2 linked regions of the Homo sapiens genome follow. The protein of the gene in region 1 interacts with the protein of each later gene in a biochemical or structural test. Each region holds a gene or a part of one and is shown on either strand. Other genes may lie near its edges.

Region 1 (3,652 bases):
CTGCTCCAGGATTCAGAATAAGATGAACAGTCTTTCTCCCCTCCTCCCACCTCTTCTCCCCAGAAAGGTCTGAAGGGGAACGGAGAAGGGCAATGCGAACACCCTGCAGGAAGCCTCAGTCTAAAACCCTAGTCTCTGTCAAGAGGGGCAATCCCCTGACACCCGCAGAATCCTGGTCTTCATAAGGCCCCACACACATCTGCTTTAAGGGGTTTACATTCCTTCTTCCTCTGCCTCCTCTTTTGCAGTGAGTTTTCATTTTAACATCGCTTTCTCCTCCCCGACTCCTCACCTGCTTTGGGGAATTCAAATGTTATCTTCATTAATGGAGAATTGCACCAAACCCTAGAGAAAGGAGTATTATTTTAAATTACAGGCCTTATAGCCTACCTACTTTAAAAAGACCTCTTACTTTATGACAAGGATTTGTTATCCCAGAGAAAAATCTTCCCATATAATTTTTAAATTTTCATTATAAAGTAGCAAATGGTAAGAAATAATGTAATTTTTTTCTTTAACTTTGCCTTAGAATTTTGTTTTCATTTTTTTGGCTCCTAGAATCTCAATTTCCTCTAAATAAATAAAAGGGGAAGAAAATATCCAGGTAAATAACATCAAATATCCTCTTAAGTCTTACTTGTATTTAAAGACTACTAACACCTCTAGGAAACAAACAGCAGGTTGAGGTACACAGACTAAAATGCATTTCTTACACAAATTAGTATGTAAACACAGAGAAACAGTATGATAAACATCCAAGTACCCACATTTACGTAGAATAATACAGTAACGTTACATGACCACAAAATCACAAAAAGTGAAGGAAGCTTTGAGATCTTCCAGTTAGCAGATTTCACACCTGGCTGGTCACGAGATTCCCCTGGGGATTCCCTCACAGATTTCCTAGGCCTCTTCCTGAACAGTCGGATTCAGCAGGCATGGCCTAGGACCCAGGAATTTGTATTTTTTTCCCATACAATTCAGTAGTCTAACCCTCTCATTATGCAGAGGAGGAAACTAAAGCTCAAGAGGTCAAGCTGTTGTCTAAGTGTACAGAGCAAGTGACAGAAACAGGGCTAGAATGCAGGTCTCTCGTCCCTACTCTGCCACTTTTTCTGTCACAGCACACCACCTCCCAAAGCTTCCCCTAGACCTGTCACCCTTACCCTTCAGCTAAGTAGCCTTTAATAGATATTCTGTCGTTAAAACTAGGTAGGGCAGGGACACATTTCATATTCCCTCTGATACAATCCTAGGCACCTAGTAAGTGTCCGATAAATACTTCTTGGTTGGCAGTTACTCAGCAAAAGTCTAATACTTTATCCTCCACTCACATCTCAGTCTACAATCATCCAAGCAGATGCAAAATTATCTGGCCAGATAATTTTCAAGATCCAGCTATAGAGGGTAGTGAATCCTGAATCTATGAAGATGCCATGTTCAAACAAGCAGGAATTTGGGTGACAACACAGTTCTATAAGATTAATGGAATCTTAATCTTCCATACTATCTCTCCCCCTTGTTCTCAAAATCTGTGAAAAAAAATAATAAAGGAATCCTAGGGATAGGAAGAATCTGGCCATTTATCTACAGCATTTGGCAAACAGAAATTTTTAAAAATCCTAAATTATTCTAAGGAGAAAATCCTTAGCAACAGTAACAACATATTTAGTTGATTTTTGTTGCTGTTTATCCTAGTTTTCAACGTGTTTTCCTAGTCTTATAAAACATTCTTCTGTGGATGGAGTCAAACTCCTTTATAAAGCTGACAGTGAGGGATGGGACACATTTAGCCTCTCTATGTATGATAACACTGCTCTCCTTCCCCACTCTCTCCCTCTCCGCCACATACATATATACACACACACAGACACACACATATTTATTTGGAGGTGAGGAACATGACATATTTTCTACTTGTAATCATGAATCATGAATCACGAACCGTGTTATAAATAAGATAATTCAATTACATTGTCATCTTGATTGTAGATAAGGAATAAAAGATAACCAAAACCTTTAAATAGCCAACAGGAAAATATTAAAGAAAACTTAAGGCTGAAAATTAAATAACCAGCAGGCACATAAGCCCCTGTGCCATGCAGCCCAGCCCCAACTATGTGCCTCTTGACAAACCAGGCTGTGCTGAAGCACAGAACAGTAGGGGGCTACCCAGAGGGAGCCAGGACAGACAGGTGCAGGGGAAACCTTCCTGCTGCCTCATGACATGCAGAAGCAGGGAAGGACGCAGCCTCCCCAGGAACCACCAGAGCTGGCCCTGGCATCCCTTAATGAGCACTCCCTCCCCAAGTAACATTAAAAAGACGTCAAGCTCCACCTGAAGAAGACGTTGCCAGAAATCATTTATGGATGAGGCCCTCCCATTTAACAGTCTCCACACCTGACTTTTGAAACCAGGTGTCCATCCAAACAGGTCTTCTTCAAGTTCTCTACCATGACAGCCTGGGTAGCAGAGCTTCCTCAATTTGTATTTTGTTTTAATTTCTACAGGAAAGGAACTGTCTTCTCTCTCCTTTTTTTTTTTTTTTTCCAACTGTTAAATCCAGTCTTACCTAGATCGTCAGCCCTTAGTATCTGCAGGGGTTTGGTTCCAGGATCCCTGCAGATACCAACATCTGAAGATGCTCAATTCCCTGATACAAAATGGTACAGAATTTGCATATAACTGACACACATCCTCCTGTATATTTTAATTAAATAATCTCTAGATTACTTATAATACCTAATAAATGTAAATGCTACATAAAGAGTTCTTGTATTGTTCAGAGAATAATGACAAGAAAAAAGTCTGTACATGTTCAATACGGATGTAACCATCCTTTTTTTAAAAAAAATCGTATTTTCCATTTGCAGTTGGTTGAATCCATGGATGAGAAACCTGCAGATACCGAGGGCTGGCTTCATTTAGATTCCTAATCATTCCTCCAGGTAGTCAATTTTTTAAAATCACATTGACAAGCTCATTCACCCATTTCTTCATTCAACACATATTTATTACAGGGTGATTGGACTTCTAGGCTGTCAGAGCTAGAAAAGGCCTTATGCATCTTTTACCCCACACCCTTCATTTTACCCAAGGGAGATGGAGGCAGGGCTAGCCCTAAACCCAGAGTCTCTCAGCCTCACCCCTGATCTAATCATCATCTCACCACCCCAACCAAGCACTTAGCAGTATAAAACCTTGTGCAAAATATATGTACTTTTTCACTTCAAAAATGAAAATATTACAAGATGAGTTTTTGTACCTTACTGTAATTTATAAAGCTAGTAAATATTAGCAAAATGGAATGATAAAACCAAAGAGTAAAAGTGCCTTTAAAAAAGTAATTGCAGGGTTTGTAAAGATTCTTTCCACTTTTTGTCACATTAAATATTTTATAAAGTCATATGACATATACATATGATGACTTTTCTGCCTTTCTGCACAGTTAGAAAGTCATTCAGGAAAGACAATGATACCACAAAACAACACTCAGAGAATGCACATTCCACAGCACTGACATGTATCATCTATGGTCCTGGTCTACAACATCCGCTGTGGTCTAAACACACACTATGGCTGTTATTAAACAAAACATCCCATTTCTACTTACTTTAATCAGAAGGAGGATGAAGCTGCTGCTAACATTTC
Region 2 (3,652 bases), about 38 Mb from region 1:
CGGGCCCAGCCGCCCTGCCAGTCGGGCTGGGTTCCCTCTTGTGTCTTTCCTGAGTCCTTCCGGGGAGGACGAGGCTGTCTTCCTCCCAGCCAACCTTCTGGGCACCTTTCCTCTCTTCCCAAGCTCTGCCTGGGACCCTTTTCCTTCCCCTCAGCCCGTGGCCGTGCTGTGCAGCCGAGCCCCGGCCTGGTCTCTGGCAGCTCAGGGTTCACTCAGGAGGTGCACCATCCAGTCGTTTCCAGTGTGTTTGCAATTATGCAACAATCGATGCAATTCTAGAAGATTCTTCCCACTCCAGAAAGAAACCCAGGACTCTCCCCCTCGCCTGGCACCCACCCGTCTGCTTTCTGGTCACTGGGTTTCTCTCTGCTGGACGTTGAGCGTGAGTGGACCCCCACGACACGGGTGGGACGTGCTTGCTGTCTGCCCTGCACTGTTTTCCAGGCCTTCCGGTGCGTGGTGGGGCTGCACGCCTCTTCCCGGCCGAACGCCCTTTCCATGGGTGTGCACGCCACGCCGTCTCTTCATCCGTTTACCGACGGGCACCTGAGCTGCTTCCGCTTCTCCTGCCATGAGTGCCTGAGTATGGGGGTCCCCTGAGGCCTCCCCAGGTGGACCATCTTGCCAGCACCTTCCTCCCGTGAACGGGTGAAGTAGGCGGCCCCCCCGGCTCAAATCCAGGGGTCAGTGCCAGGGATGACCCTGGAAATATCTGCTGGGGCGCCTGGTGAGAACTCGGGTGAGGTGGGTAAAGTGAGCGACCTCTTTACTCTGCAGAAAAAGGCTTGTTCACTTTCTGACGGGTCTCAAGCTGAGTCCCGCTTTCTCTCACACGAAGTTTCATGTGGGAGCCACCAGCCAGGTGGTGGCTCTGTGGGAATCCAGTGGTGGCAAAGAGGGCCTGGGGGACAGCAGGAGGGACTTAAGATGCCTGCTTGGCCACCTTTGCCTGAGGCCCTCAGACTTCCTCCTTGCAGAAAGGGCCTTTTCTTGAGGGATGTGGAAATCTCTTGACAGCAAAGAGGACTCTGGCCCTGAATTCAGCTGAGTCGTTTGTGAACCCAGGGCCTGCCCACAGCCCCTCTGTCCAGTGGGGCTCCTGTACCAGCCCTGTGGCCTTGCCAGGGAGAAGGGAAGCTACACCCCCGGGTGCTGTAGCCTTCCTGGGACTGGGGGGCTCTGCCTCAGTTCCAGCTCCTCGCCGCAGCTCAGCTGTCCCCACAGTGCTCCTCACAAGGCCAGATGTGGCTGCCCCAGTATTAAGCTCCTTCTCTGTGTTTGCACTGGGGGCTCTCGCGCCTGGTGCTCCCACTGGCTGGTGGTGCACCCCTCCAAGGGCTGTGTGCGTCTGCAGAGCGGGAGGGTGTGCGAGCCCAAGGAAGCCCCTGCTGCTGGAGCCCGGAGTGCGCACGGGGCTGTGGGACGCTCAGTCTGTCCTCACGATGTGGTGTCCCCAGGGGCAGTGCCAAGAGCCAGGGCCCATGGGTGCCCAGGACCCGAGCCTCCGCCCAGATGGAGCAGGACCCCCTCCTGCCTGCGAAGCTGTCCCAAGCCTGGTGACTGCCACCCAGCCTCAGGATGTGCTGCCACTTGGCTAGCTTTGGCCCTTCCCTGTCCAGTGCATCTGGAGCCCCTGGGGCCTGGCCGTTTCCTTTCCCACGATTGTTTGAGGTTTTATCCCCCAGAGTGTGGAGCCGGGAGAGTTTCCAGAGTCCCCGGGCTGTCCCTGCGCCCCACAGCCCACCCAGGTGTTGTCGCCACGTGAACGTGAACCTGGTAGCCCGAGCTGGGGCCTCCTGCCTATGGGAGCTCCTCTGGCCCACTCGCGGGGACAGCCATAGTGACGGCTCTGCCGCTAGCCAGAAACCACAGGGGCCTACTGTCAGGAGGGACCGGGGCCACCCTTTAGCCAGATGGGGCCCATCCAGCTGGTGGGCCCCGGACATAGGAGTGACCATCTCCAGAGACGGCGACAGCGGTAGGGGGAGCTGCCCCTGTGGACCCCACAAATGCTGGGTCCTAAGAAGGGCCCCGAGCAAGGCCTGCGGTTCGGGAGACCCGAGGGGCGGGCTGGCACTCAGGCCCCTGTGCCCTGCAGGTTCTGCGGGGAGTGTCTCCAGCCCTGCCTGCAGGTGCCATCCCCGCTGTGCCCACTCTGCCGCCTGCCCTTCGACCCCAAGAAGGTGGACAAGGCCACCCACGTGGAGAAGCAGCTCTCATCCTACAAAGCGCCCTGTCGAGGCTGCAACAAAAAGGTACCCGCCTGCTTGGGCCGCCCTGGAGCCGGGGTCACTTGATGGGCAGCCTCAGCCCACGGGTTCTGCAGAGGGTGGGGGCCGGGGCCCTCTCTCTTTCCTGTTGAGTAATCGCGGTCTCTGCTCCTGCACCAGGAAGCCAGCCCCGGCGCCTCCCTCCCCTCCCGTCTTCATCTCTCACTTCCTGTGGTGACGGCTGACGGGGGGGCCAGCCCGGTGGGGGTAGCACTGTCAGAGCCGCCTAGCCCGGGCCAGGGGAACCCACGTGGGTTGTGGCCAGGGTAAGGACCAGGGGGCTGAGCTGAAACCTTCCCAATGCAGCCTTCCCCTGCCAGCCGATACCGGGGACGGCGCTGGGGGCTCCAAGGTCACAAGGGCCGCGGGCACAGTCAAGGACATCTAAGGGCCGAGCACCCTCCAGCTGCCAGGAGGGCCAGAGCCGGGCTGATGGGCACTGCCACACCCACATCAGAGCAGCGTAAGGGCCTGCAGCTTGTCATGGGCCTCATTGGCCCCCATGTCCATCCTGTCCTGGTGCCTGGCCCGTGCCCCGTGGCCCTCCCTGGCACATCCGCTTCAGGGTGGAGAGGCCCCAGCCAGCGCCCCGTTCTTTCAGTGGCTTCCGGAGGACTGAGCAGCTAGAGGTGATTTTGCATTTGCGTTTCCCGACGTTGCCACATCTCAGGTGAATAAGTTCTATGAAGCGCTCACACTAGTACGTGGCCCCTCGGTGGTTTGTCCTCGAGGTCGAAGGTCCAGATGTCCAGGGGCTGCCCTGGACTCCAGAGTGGTGCGGCTGAGCAGGCTGTGGTCTTGGGTGCTTGGGCACCTCCCGTCTCTCCCTGCTCAGAGTTCTTCTCTCCTGGGCAGCCAGAAAGGATCAGAACCGGTCACATGCAGAGCGGCCTCCCGTATCCCACAGCAGCTCCGTTCTCTAATCTGGGTCTTCAGATGCGGCTGTGTCTCCCGGCACCTTGCTGGAATGTGGTGCATCCCTCGGAGTCCAGCAGCCCTTAGGCAGAGCTGGGTGCCGAGCTTGAGTCCAGGAGGGCCTCAGACACCTGCGATCTTGCAGCCTGTTGCCCTGGACAGTGGGTGTGCTGTGGGTGGAGGATGGCGCCCTGCCTCCACGGAAGCATCCCCAGCTTGCCCCTCAGTCACACGAAGCGTCTGTCCCCAGCCTGGGGCATTTCTGAGTGGCCTCCACTTGGCCTCTTCCTTTTTCTGGAGCAAGTATTTGAACTCCTGCAGGCGCCAGAGATCTCCTTACCTGTTTCCCGCTACCCTTCTCCAGCCAGGTTTCTGCCCTCGGCCAGATTGTCCTGCAGTGACTTGCTTTTGGCCATGGAGTAGTGGCTGCTCAGTGCCTGAGATTGTTTTAGCAGCAGAAGGGACCG

Evidence for each region.
Region 2: the proteins of CYLD (region 1) and RNF166 form a complex in vitro, tested with the Homo sapiens proteins (one study listed by BioGRID).

What each region holds. Positions count from the first base shown.
Region 1 is NC_000016.10:50,797,513-50,801,164, reverse strand, and holds part of CYLD (ubiquitin carboxyl-terminal hydrolase CYLD), read right to left. Parts: 3' UTR 1-3,652. UniProt on the Homo sapiens protein: Deubiquitinase that specifically cleaves 'Lys-63'- and linear 'Met-1'-linked polyubiquitin chains and is involved in NF-kappa-B activation and TNF-alpha-induced necroptosis.
Region 2 is NC_000016.10:88,699,865-88,703,516, reverse strand, and holds part of RNF166 (E3 ubiquitin-protein ligase RNF166), read left to right. Parts: exon of another isoform or gene 1-727; intron 728-2,098; coding exon 2,099-2,255; intron 2,256-2,566; exon of another isoform or gene 2,567-2,576; coding exon of another isoform or gene 2,577-2,897; exon of another isoform or gene 2,898-3,652. UniProt on the Homo sapiens protein: E3 ubiquitin-protein ligase that promotes the ubiquitination of different substrates. In turn, participates in different biological processes including interferon production or autophagy.